Linked DNA regions of Homo sapiens. The protein of the gene in region 1 purifies or fractionates together with the protein of each later gene. This does not show direct contact. Each region holds a gene or a part of one and is shown on either strand. Other genes may lie near its edges.

What was found.
Region 2: the proteins of FSCN2 (region 1) and ZNF507 purify together in Homo sapiens (affinity purification with mass spectrometry; 2 studies listed by BioGRID and IntAct, with this or other methods). This does not show direct contact.

The regions. Positions count from the first base shown.
Region 1 is NC_000017.11:81,523,379-81,531,459, reverse strand, and holds the start of FSCN2 (fascin-2), read right to left. Parts: upstream 3,084-8,081; 5' UTR 2,929-3,083; coding exon 2,103-2,928; intron 1-2,102. UniProt on the Homo sapiens protein: Acts as an actin bundling protein. May play a pivotal role in photoreceptor cell-specific events, such as disk morphogenesis.
Region 2 is NC_000019.10:32,383,461-32,388,238, forward strand, and holds the end of ZNF507 (zinc finger protein 507), read left to right. Parts: 3' UTR 1-4,207; downstream 4,208-4,778. UniProt on the Homo sapiens protein: May be involved in transcriptional regulation.

The DNA.
Region 1 (8,081 bases):
CCATCACCACCACCATCACCACCATCTCCATCATCACTATCACCACCACCATCACCATCACCATCATCACCATCACCACCATCACCACCACCATCATCACCATCACCATCATCACCACCACCATCACCACCACCACCATCATCACCACCACCACCATCACCATCACCACCATCACCATCACCACCGCCATCACCACCATCATCACCATCACCATCATCACCACCATCACCATTATCACCATCACCACCATCACCACCATCACCACCATCACCACCATCATCACCATCACCACCATCATCACCATCACCATCATTGTCGCTGCTGCCACCACACTGTCACCACCGTCCTCACCTCCACTTCCACGCCACCATGCACATCACACCACAATGCCACGGCCACGGCCATGACTGCCACTTTGAGTCTGCTTTCCAAGCTGTCCATATACAAATGCCTAAAGGTCTAGTGTCTTTGGCTTCCATGGAGGAAGCATTCTCACTGCCACTGTCCCACTTACCCCCTTTAACCACCTAAGGATTGCCACATGCCCGGCCTGGGCCCAGGCCAGCAGGCATTACAGCTGGACTGTGGGCTGTGATAGGAAGGAAGGGCCATGGCCGTGCATCCACAGTTGAATTCTCACTCCTGGGACCCTGTCACTGCTGGGACAGGCCCGAGGATGCCAACTGCAGGTGCAGGACCCCATAGCCATGGCTGGGCTCCCCTCTCCATGCACAGGGTGGGGCCTCTGCCATCTGGCCCCAGAGTGTCAGTGTACCCAGGGGGCCTGGACATCCGTCAGGGTGGGGGCTTGGTGGGCACCTGGGAGCTGCCAGGAGACAGGGGAGCTCTCCTTGCCCAGCTGATGCTGGTCTGGAAGGACCTGAGTTGGGAGGAGGAGCTCCATGCACCCGGCTCTCCCCACCTCGCCTTTTCAGACCACCTCCGAGCCACTCTGGGGTGCATGGAGCCAGGAGCCCAGGTGGGTAGTGACTGCCCGGGCCAGGGCTTTTCCCTCAGAGCTCAGCTTGTGGGGAAGGAGGAACTGCTGGGGTTCACCCCATAGGCGGTGGAGGGAGTCACACAGACAGGCAACTGGTGACCTGGGAACTGGGGAGAGCCAGGCCACGCCCCACTGGGGCAGGGAGGTGCCTCCCCACCAGGAGCCCAGGCCCCGGGTAAAGCTGCCTGCCCACCGTGTCCTCCATCACTGGAGCTGACCTTAAGCCCCCCCACTCCTGAGGACACGAGGCTCCACTGGTCAGGCACGTGGTGGTGCTATCCCCGCCCGATCCCCAGCTCCCTGCCCTACCCTGGGCTCCTCCCCAATTTCCTTTAAAGTCCAGAAAATGCAGCCGGGCACGGTGGCTCACGCCTGTAATCCCAGCACTTTGGGAGGCCGAGGTGGACAGATCACAAGGTCAGGAGATCAAGACCATCCTGGCTAACACAGTGAAACCCCGTCTCTTCTAAAAAATACAAAAAATTAGCCGGGCGTGGTGGCGGGCGCCTGTAGTCCCAGCTACTCGGGAGGCTGAGGCAGGAGAATGGCGTGAACCCGTGAGGCGGCGCTTGCAGTGAGCCGAGATCACGCCACTGCGCTCCAGCCTGGGTGACAGAGCGAGACTCTGTCTCAAAAAATAAATAAATAAATGAAGTCCAGAAAATGGGGTGGAGAAAAAGAAGGGGAGATATGGACCCCCCACAGCCTCCTGCCCACATGCCCCTCATGGCACCAGGCCAGGCTGTGGGCCTCCTGCCCCTGCTGGGCACTGCCCATCGCCTGGCCCACACCTCTCCAGTCTCAGACTCCGCAGCTGCCCAGGGCTTGGCTGAGACATTCTCCAGCTATGCTGAGAAAGGCCAGGAACCCTTGCCTCTGACCCTGAAGCCACCACCCCTCAGTGGGGGTCGCCTGGGCATGGCCCGAGGCCCACCCACCTACACCCTGAGTGGCCACACATGTCCCACATGGACCCCCAGCCCAGAACAGACATGTGAACGCACAGACACGATACCACTCCCCGTGAGACCCCCACGGCCTCCTCCCTGAAGCAGGGGGGTCCCAGCACCCCTCAGGAGGTCGCCACCTGTGCCCTCCCTACCTTGCCGCACAGAGACGTAGCGGTGGTTGGCAGCCACCAGCACCACCTGTGGGTGACTCTCCTCCAGATCAAAGAGCTCATCCTTGCCAGGTCGCGTGTTTCGGCCGGCCTTGAGGGTGCCTGCGGGCCCCACGGGTGCCAGGTAGTGGCCGTCGCAGTCCTTGAAGGCCAGCTTGCCCGCCTTGAACTCCAGCGTGTAGCAGGCACGGGGCTCAGGCTCCCAGACCAGACGGCCGTCGCTGCGCAGGTAGCGGCTGTCACAGGACTTGAGGCAGTACCGTCGGCTCCGGAAGATGAGGGTGAGGAGGGCGTCCACGCCCCAGGGCTTGTCTCCGTCTGCGGCCATCTCGTCCTCCCGCGGGCACAGGTGCACGTAGCGCCGCCGGCTCACGCTCAGCAGGTGGGCCTGCGGGTGGATGGCCAGGTGCACGGTCCACAGCTCGGCCGGGGAAACGGCTGTGGCGAAGCAGGACAGCTGGTCCTCGGTGCCTCCGAAGAAGCGGCCGTGCGGCTCGGACCGCAGCACCCAGCGCCCATCTGGCTGCGGCAGGACCAGGAAGCGGCAGTCACGGCCCGGCTGCTCTGCCTCACAGGCCACGCGCCCGTCCTCTTCTGCCGACAGGTAGCGGCCCAGGTGGCTGCTGCGGAGCAGCACAGCCGTGCCTTGTCCTGGGTCGGGTTCCAGCACCCAGGTCTGCTTCCTCTTGAGGCTGGGTGCCGAGGCATTGACCTTGAAGCCGAAGCTCTCAGCTGTCAGGTAGCGGTCAGTGTCGTTGACGAGGCCAAACTGGATCTTCAGCACCTGGTGCAGGCCGTTCGTCGGCATCTTCAGGCTGGCCGGGTCCCCGGAGGGGCCTGGGATGCGCCCTCTGAGTGCTCACGGCCCCCGCGGTCCCCCAGAAGCCCGGGTCGGCTCGGCTGGCCCACAGCCCCCAGACCCAGCCGGCGTCACGAACCCCCTGCCTGCTCTGACCCGCCTCTGACCCGCGGCAGCAGCCTGGGCAGCTCTTAGAGGGCCCGCGGGCAGCAGAGGGCGGGCGGGGAGGGCGGATCAGAGACGTGCGGCTTAGGAGCAGCACCTTTCATTACCCTCAGCTTGGATTTCAGCCACTCCCGGATTGCACAGAGCCCAGAGCCCGAGGGCCTGAGGGCCTACGGGGCTGGAGGGCAGGGTTGATCCCCTTTTCCTCATAGCGTGGGCCCAGCGCCCCTCTTCACGGCCCTGCACCTTTTGGCCTCTCTCGTTCCTGCCCCCCTCCTCCAACCCCGTGTGGGCTCCCGGCCCGGCCCGGCCCAGCCCTTCCGGATGTAGAAGCCGTCCAGTGGAACGCTCACGGCTCGGCCGCAACCTGATCGCCGCCCGTACCCTCGGTGGCCGCCAGGCCCTCAGCTGGATCCAGTTACTGCTTCTCTGATTCCTGCTGCCAGAAGCATAGCAAGGACCCCAGCCACAACCTGCAGCCCAGGTCGCCTCCACCCCAGACCGGCCTCTGGCCACACTGCTCAGGCCCCAGAATGACGCACTGGACTGCCACCCACGCTGGAGGGTGGAACACAGTGGCCGTGCAGCCCTGCAGGCAGGGGGCAGAGTCAGAGGCCCTGGGCCAGGCTGGCCCGGCCCCAGCGCACTCCTGTGCGCTCTGAGCAAGTTGCTGGGCCCTGAGGCTGCCCCCTCCTCTGCTGTGAGCTGGAGTGAAGCCAGCCTCACTTCACTTTGGAGTCTTTACGGATGTGGATCCAGGAGGCTGGTGGGACGATGTCCACCCCATGCTCCCAGCGGTGGCCCTTGGAATCTGGGAGAGGATGAAGGCCAGCAGGCCGGGAGAGACTGGAAGTGGTCACACCTGTCTACAGCACCTCCTTGCTCTGGGCCACCTGGCTGTACCCCTTCCCCAGAGCCTGAGGGGCACTGGGCCCTGCTCACCGTGCCTGGCTCCTGCACCTGCCTCAGGGGCTTGGGGCCAAGTAGTGAAACCAGAGCTGGCCACCCTGGGCCAGGGCCAGCCCGGTGTCCTCTTCCTCATAACAGCGTGTGACCCTCCCGTCTCCCTGGGGACTGGGAACAGGGGCCACAGGCCCCTTCCGGTCATGGCCTGGAGTCACTCCCCTGTCCTCCTGGGCCCATCTCCTGAGTGGCCATCATGGGGGTCCCCGTAGGGCAGGAGTCTAGCCAAAAGCAAGGGGCCTGGGCTGGGCACCTGTGGGCTCCAGAGGTGGGCAGGGCCATGGTGGCAGAGTGTGCACAGACTCAGGGGCTCTTCCTCTGTCCTCTAAGCCCTGGACAGCAACCGTGCCAGGCACCTGCAGACACAGGGGAGGAAAAAGAGGAGACCTGTCCCCACTGTCCCCACGCTCAGGGGCCAGGGTGGGGGCAGAGAGACTCCCACATGCAAATACCCCCCAGGGCACAGCGTACGCCACGACGCCAGGGCCTGCTCTCGCCTCTCCCTGTGTGCTGGCCTCATCCGCCTCTATGATTCACACGCATTTATGAGGCACCAACTGTGTGCGAAACCAGGTCACGTGCCAGGCACCATCCTGGGGAGACGCAGTCTGGGGTTTCACCCCCTTCCCAGAGACGATGCCCACACACACTCTCCCACAGTTTCCAGGGGACTGAGGACACAGGCCTAGCACCGATGCCAGGGAACTGTCTCTGGTTTAGGGATACAAGCTAGGGTGCTGCCTGCACCTCACTTTCCCATTGGCTCTTCTTTTTAAAAAACTTTTTTCTTGAAATAGGGTCTCGCTCCTCACCCAAACTGGAGTCCAGTGGCGCAATCTTGGCTCACTGGAACCTTCGAGCTCAAGCAGTCCTCCTGCCTCAGCCTCCCAAGTAGCTGGGATTACAGGCACTTGCTACCGTGCCCGGCTAATGTTTGTATTTTTAGTAGAGATGGGGTTTCACCATGTTGCCCAGGCTGGTCTCGAACTCCTGACCTCAAGTGATCTGCCCGCCGCGGCCTCTGAAAGTGCTGGGATGATAGGCGTGGCCACTGCGCCCGGCCTCCCGTTGGATTTTGAGGGTACAGCTCGGTTGGTCCGTGAGCGGTGGGGGAAGCCGGAGGGGCAGCTGTGCCCATGGTCCCCCCCACCCCAGGCACAGACACTGGCTTCACCTCCACACCCCAACGCCCAGCCAGGCTGAGGAGGAGCCCAGGCGGCCTGCCCCTCTGATTGGCACGACGGCCTCATTAGCGCTGTCTGGGCTGGCAGGGCGCTTAGGCATCGGGTGCTCAGCAGGGGGAAGCCTGGCCGCCCGGCACTAAGTGGGCCTGGCTCTGGGCAGCCTCTTGGTGGCAGAGCCAGAAATGATGGCGGCTCCTCAGTTCTAGGGCCCCACAGCTCCACGTTGGGTGGGGCTGCCTGGCACTGACCCAGCTGTGTGAGCTAAACAGGGGAGGGTGACTGAAGGGTGGGCGCCTGGGCCAGGCTTCCTTGGAGGGAGGCCGTTTACAGGGATTCCAGCCCCTCCTGCCTCCACCTCAGGACCCCAGGCTGTTGCCCAGCCACCTGCTAGGATCGCTTCCTCTGGATTCTCAGCAAAATTTCTGGCACACAGCAGGTACTTAATAAGTGCCTGAGATTGTTGGATGTCGGGAGTCTGGTTATTATTAATTATTTTATTTTTTTCAGACAGAGTCTCACACTGTCACCCAGGCTGGAGTGCAATGGCACAATCTTGGCTCACTGCAACCTCTGCCTCCCAGGTTCATGTGATTCTCCTGCCTCGGCCTCCCGAGTTGCTGGGATTACAGGCGCCTGCCACCATACCCAGCTAATTTTTTTTGTATTTTTTAGTAGACACGGGGCTTCATTATGTTGGTCAGACTGGTCTCGAACTCCTGACCTTGTGATCTGGCCTCCTCAGCCTCTCAAAGTGCTGGGATTACAGCCGTGAACCACCAGGCACAGCCTTTTTTTTTTTTTTTGAGACAGAGTCTTGCTCTGTCGCCCAGGCTGGGGTGCAGTGGCGTGATCTCAGCTCACTGCAACCTCCACCTCCCAGGTTCAGGCGATTCTCCTGCCTCAGCCTCCCAAGTAGCTGGGACTACAGGCGCCCACCACCACGCCCCGCTAGTTTTTGTATTTTTAGTAGAGATGAGGTTTCACCATGTTGGCCAGCATGGTCTCAAACACCTGACCTCAGGTGATCCACCTGCCTCGGCCTCCCAAAGTGCTGGGATTACAGGCGTGAGCCACCGTGCCTGGCCGTCTGGTTCTTTTTATTTATCTTAGAGACAGGGTTTTGCTCTGTCACCCAGGCTGAACTGCAGTGGCGCTATCTTGGCCAGTGGCAGCCCCGAACTCCTGGGCTCCGGCGATCCTCCCACCTTGGCCTCCTGAGCAGCTGGGACCCCAGCACAGGGCCGGGTTCTTGTATGATGGGCTGAGCCTCTGCCCATGGGTGCAGCGTTGTGCATGTGTGTGAGTGTGGTGTGTGTGTGTGTGTGTGTGTGTGTGAAGGTGCTCATGGATGAGGGTGGGCAAAGGTTGCCAGAAGAGTCGCCTGCTGGGCCAACTCTGGACCCTGGGACTGTCATCCTGGATCCCAGCCTGAGAGCCTACTCAGGGCTGCCCAGCAGGGAGCCCAGGTTGTACACTGCCCAAGGGAGGCTATTTCCAGGGTCCCACTCATACTCCAGACATACACAACTCACAAGAGCATATGGTGGGCTGGGGCACTCTAGCCCCCTGCAGTGTTCTCAGGCAACAGGAAGCACCCCTCCCACTGACCCTCACCAAGCCCTGTGGCCACACCTCCGGAGGTGCCAACCAACCACTCACATGGGATACACACGTGCCTGCCACCCTGACCTGTGCAGGCTGCACTGTGGCGACATTCAAAGGCGCTGCCACACTGAGGGCTCCACGCCCCACCCTCGCCCACCTCTGAGGCTGGTGGAAGCCCCTGCCCAGTGTGTGCCTGAGGCCCAAGCTGAGGTCTGCACCTGGGAGGGGGTGCCTTGTCCCGGTGGGCAGTGAGAGGCTGTTTGGGGTAGCAGTACCCCCAGCCCCCTGGTCCAGGGAGCAGCCAGCTGTGACAGACTTCCTGGCCTCACCTGAGCCCAGAGGGCAAGGAATGCCTCAGCCATCAGAATCCCCTGGCAGCCTCCCGAGGCCTGAGCCTCGGCCTCCATCCCTCTCAGTGCGGGGCCAGCTGGGCAGGACCAGGAAGCCATGCGCCCCCACCGGCACCTGGTGTCCACCCTCAGGTTTCCCGAGAGCCCTTAGGAAATCGTTCCCTTTCTGAGGTGCTGGTGGACGGGCTGTCCTGGTGCTCCAGGGTCCCCCTTCCCCTCCCCGAGTTGGCCCGTCTGGTGCTCCAAGGGGAAGGACCCCAAGCCCCCCATGCCTAGACCACTGATCCTGGATGCTTGAGCCCAGCCTGGGCTCCTGCTGGCACGCTGTCTGCTGCCATGGTGACCGGCACGTGCTCCAGGCTGGATGCCCTGCAACGCTGATGCTGGTGGTGTGAGCTGGCACAGGCCTGCGTGTGTGCAGCTGGGGGAGAGGTGGCTCCTCGCCCTGCTGGACTGGAGCCCTGAAAACTGGGAAATGGAGCCCTGGGGCCACCCCGCGGCTGAGGACCACGCCTTTCACAGGCCAGCAGTGCCTGCAGCCCTCCCTGCAGGCATCGGAGGAGCCCCCACCTCAGTGCCAGGCCCTGACCGCTGCCACTCCTGTTGGCATCCCTGTCTCCAGTGATTCCCAGGTACTCCACCCTCCCCCTTGTCCCCGTGCCAAGCCCCTGCCTAGGCTCTGTTGTCCCCTTGGCCCTGCAGCCAGGTGAGGGCCACCCTGCTGGGCACACCGGGCCTTGATGTCCTCACTCCTGGCCCAGCACCTACTCCCAGGGGCCCAGCCCCGGGTGTTATTCCTGAGCACAGACCTGCAGCCTGGCGACCTCATGATTTTTTCATGGCTGAGCTATCGGCTCCGCTGCAGTTCCACTTACACGGGCGAGGGGGCCGCACT
Region 2 (4,778 bases), on another chromosome or scaffold:
TCTTAAGCAGAGCTTAGTTTTCTTCTCACTTGTCAAATGCAGACTGTGAGGCCTCCAGTGAGAAATGGGAGGCAGTTCTGGGAGGGGGTTTTTTCAGTGTCACCAACAGAGTCAACAAGGAAACATAATTAGAGGGCTTTGAAATGATCTACTGAAATACCTAAATTGATAGAAATTAATCATACTCAATCTAGGACATGTTCCTTTACTCCTTAAAAAAGAAAGGAAAGATCTCTAAATTCAAAGCTAGATTGTAAATAGGCATTCAAGAAGTATTGTCTTAAATTTACGATGAATTTCTTGTGAGCAGAGGACGAAACAGGTGAATTCTCACCAGACTCAAACCAGATCTCAATTCGTAGTAATGCTAAATCGTCTTCCGTGTTCTCAGAGGTTCTTTTCAGTGTCTGTCAGAACTTGGCATACTTTCTCCATAGTACGTAGACCTTCTAATACTCTGCTAAATGAAACCACACTTGTTATCTGAAAGTGTGTGAAAGAAACAATGTATGAAAATTTACATTTGATCATCCGGCATTGGAAATAGTTTGAACTATTTCCAAAAATCCCTTAGGGGATGAGGGGTGAAATTTAAAAGCTCCTGAAAATGAGTACTGCTGTGTTGAGCTTTTCTTTCCTGGGGTATATTAATTTAGTTATATTTAGCAGAAGAGGAATATAACCAAATGTGACTAAAATATAGCAGAAATTCAGGTTGTTTGTAAAAATTTTAATAACAAATAGCATTTGGCAAGTCTATAGGATTCTTCCTATCTGGAAATTCTATTTTGTTAGAGTGCGATAGGACATATGGAAAACCAACACAAAGTGCTTTAGCATTAAAACTCACCATCAAATAGATGTAATCTTATTAATTACACATTTTGTATTTTAATTATTTCAAGGAGTGAAGAAAACAGGGTGTTTTTGTTTTTGTAGTTCTGATTACTCATTTATGCATTGTTTTGTTTAAGTAAATTCTGCCTACAAGTGAAAAGGTCGGTGCGCTCTTCTGTGCACCATCCTCACGGTGCTATTTCCGAATATCTGAATATTGATTTCTAACACCTGGATGAGGCTGTGACCGATCAACTTGGAACACTGTAAAGGTTTTCGAATGGGATACGCTGTAGGCACGTTTTAAGAAGTATTCTGTTCCTAAAGTCCAGGTATGATTGGATTAATATTTATAAAATTATTATTAGGAATTATTTAAGTGGGGCCAGGCATCTTGCAACATTTTCTGATTTTTTTTTCTTTCTTTCTAATCTCATTTTGGTGATATTTAAACAAACATAAATGATTGTAACTTTGCAGCTTTTTTATTTAGGTAGCTTTAATTTATTTATGAAAGTTAATCCATTTCTGATACGTGGTTTTTAAAAATATGAAATGGATTTATATATACTATATTCCTCAAATCCACTGTATGTGGACTTATATTCATTTTCTCCTTTTTTCGGAATTGAAACATTTTAATTTCAAATTCAAATAGAACATTTAAAATGATTTCATTATTATTACCCATACTGTTGCCACTCATATTGTAAGTCAGTTTTTTCATTGCTGGTACAATGACTCAGTATTTCTTTATAAAAATCTGTTGTTCTGAAAATCAACAACCTTAGAAGGATTTTGTCTTAGAAAATTTCCTTGGCTTTAGTTTTATATCATATTTAGAAAATAATAATGAAAAGCATCCCCAAAATTTCAATGATGTGAATTTTTAAATTACCTTTATTTCTTTAAACTAATTCCATTGATTGTTACTTAAATTTTCCACCTGGAATCATGGATTTAAAATTTCCCCACCTCATGGGGAAAAAACTAACCCAGAAGTTCAAAGCCTTTAAAGTTTCATCTGATTCTGGCCTTAGAATTGTCCTTAAAAGCTTTCTCCTGGCCGATAGGAGGAAGCATATATCAAGGAGGTTCTTTCCCTTCCCATTATCATTTTGTGGCAAGCCTTAAGTTAACAATGTGTCTACCAAGAACAATTGAGTTTTCTAAAAGTAATAATGAAGATTATGCAATTCTAACTGTAGAAGAGATAGCTATTAAAATAATCAGTAGCCTGGGCATAGTGGCTCACACCTGTAATCCCAATACTTTAGAAGGCCAAGGCTGGAGGACTGCTTGAGTCCAGAAGTTTAAGACCAGCCTGGGCAACACGGGGAGACCCTGTCTCTACAAGAAATTAAAAATTAGCCAGGCATAGTTGGCACGTGCCTGTAGCACCAGCTACTTGGGAGGTTAAGGTGGGAGGATCACTTGAGCCTGGGAGATAGAGGCTTGCAGTGAGCCGTGATGGCACCATTGCACTCCAACCGGGGTGACAGATGAGGTCCTCTGTTTACCTCCCCCCCCAAAAAAAAAATTCAGTAGGAATTCCTTCATAGAATAACATGTTATTTATTGGTATTGACTTCTTATTAGACAGAGCTCATAGTATTTGTTTTCTGCTCCGAACACTTAAAAAATACTAAGACGTGATAGTGAAAATAGCTTTGAAAAGAAACTACATATGGCAAAGGTGGGGAGGGGGGAAGATGATGCATTCTGATCATTATAAAGAATACTTTTCAGGGCTCTATCATTTTCTCCCTTTCTCTAATCATCCAGAATATGGCGGGTGTCCCAGTGTTCAACAGTATCATGCTAATATTCCATTTGATCGGTAGTCCAAGTTCTTTGGCCAGATAGTGCAATGTTGTGACACCGACCGAAGCCTTTGTTCTGGATCTTTCTTCCTATTGAAGGTGGCTGCTGGTGGCTTCATAATTTTCTGTTTTTTTTCTCACAAAGTAAATGGTGGGCATCCATGTTTACATTGCACCTTCCCGTGCTGTAATTGGCTTGACAAAGACAAGCAGGCTTCTCTGTTGAGACTTATTGTGTTTTTAGTTTTCATAGACACTTATTTAATCTTTTTAAATTGTACAGCAAGGTGCTCTAAGTAATATTCGATAAAATATATTTAATAGAAATTTGCGTTTGATATTCATGAACATGAATACATGTATTTTTTTAAGAAATAAGTATTGTGTAACACTATGGCATTGCTTCTATAGCCAAAGTATAAAAATTTCTGGAATACTGACATGTAAAGACTACAGTTAATTCTGACACTGTATCTTATTAAAATAGGATGATTTGCATTTTGTAAAATTATCCTGCACATCAAGCTGCATGCCTTAAAGCGGAAACTCTAGGACTGTGTTCATGGGAGAGCAGTTCATCTGTTCAGAACAGTGAGGCAAGGTCTGTAGTGCTTCTTTAACTACCTTTGGAAATACTGTACAATGTTAGAATAATTTATTTTGCTTTACAGGAGTTTGTCATGTATTGACTTTAATATTGTATTTTGGTAATAAATTTTTTGTTAAAAAAAACTTGGCTCCAAGTTCTATTAACCACAGGTTGTGTTCATTCTTTTCCTGGAAATGATGACTTTATTGCTTAGAAAGTTGTAAATAATTAAAAGCTTCCCAAGAGTTAAATGAAGGTTATGATGACTCTTGATAACTTGTTAATCTGTTGCTGACTAGCATTAGACTGTTACACGAAGATAAACTGAATAAGCATTTAGCTTTTTAAATCATTTTAAAAATTAAGTCTAATTTTGAAGCTTTTTTCCTTGCTACCCAGTTCAGTTTCTCTTCCAAATGTGACACGCTTATATGCTTTCAATTCTGATATAGTCAAAGTGCTAAAGACTAGTTCTGCTATTGACGAAGGAATTAGCATTCCTTAGTGAAGGCCAAAAACTACAGTGATATGTTCACACCTTGATCACTCTGTCGTCTATACAGACAGCTATTGACATATTTGTTGCATTGACGAAGCTAACATCATCTGACTGTATCGTGGGTCTGGTTATCCATTTGTGCCCTAGAATCCTGGGTCACCTCAGTTGAAAGTGACCAAGGCCAAATATTTCGTCCCATGCTTCCCAGGGACAACATAATCATATCCCCTGTCTTTGAAAAACCCAATCTGAAACTGTGTCACTAACCTCCAAATTAAAGAATCCGAGCATGGAAGCTCTAGAACGTATGGTCCAGTGTGGCAGCCACTATAATATCTAAGTGTAAAATACATAGCAGTTGCAAAGACTTAGTACAAAAAGAATGGAAATGTATTAACAGTTTTTTATATTGATTACATGTTGAAATGATATTTTGGTTTAAATAAAATATTAAAATTAGTTTTACCTGTTTCTTTAGCTACTAAACAGTTTTAAATTACATATGTGGCTTACATTATATTTCTTTTGGACAGCGCTGGTACAGAAGAGAGATTAGCAAACTAGGGCCCTCTCTTCAAAGCCAACCTGCCACCTGTTTTGGCAAATAAAGTTTTATTGGCACACAGCCATGCTTTTGTGTGTGTACATATCATATATGGCTATTTTCAAGGTACAACAGCAGCACTGAGTAATTGTGACAGAGACTCTATGGCCCACAAAACCTAATTTACCACCTATCTGATAGAAAAAGTCTTCTGACTAGACCTCTGAACTAGAACAATGGTATAATTTGTGCTCTAGAGCTACCAGGAAGAAAACGGCTTTTTACAAAGAAAGCTTTTTATAGTAGTGCTTTATAACTAAATTAGTTTCTTCCTTTGTAATTTTTATAGTCTACCTGTCTACAGATTTTAACCATATTTTATGACTTTAACCTATTCCATCGCTGATATTTAAAGCCAGTTTGAAATAACAATGCATAATTAAATAATAAACTAATTCAAAATGCAGCTATAAAAAGTCTCGCTTG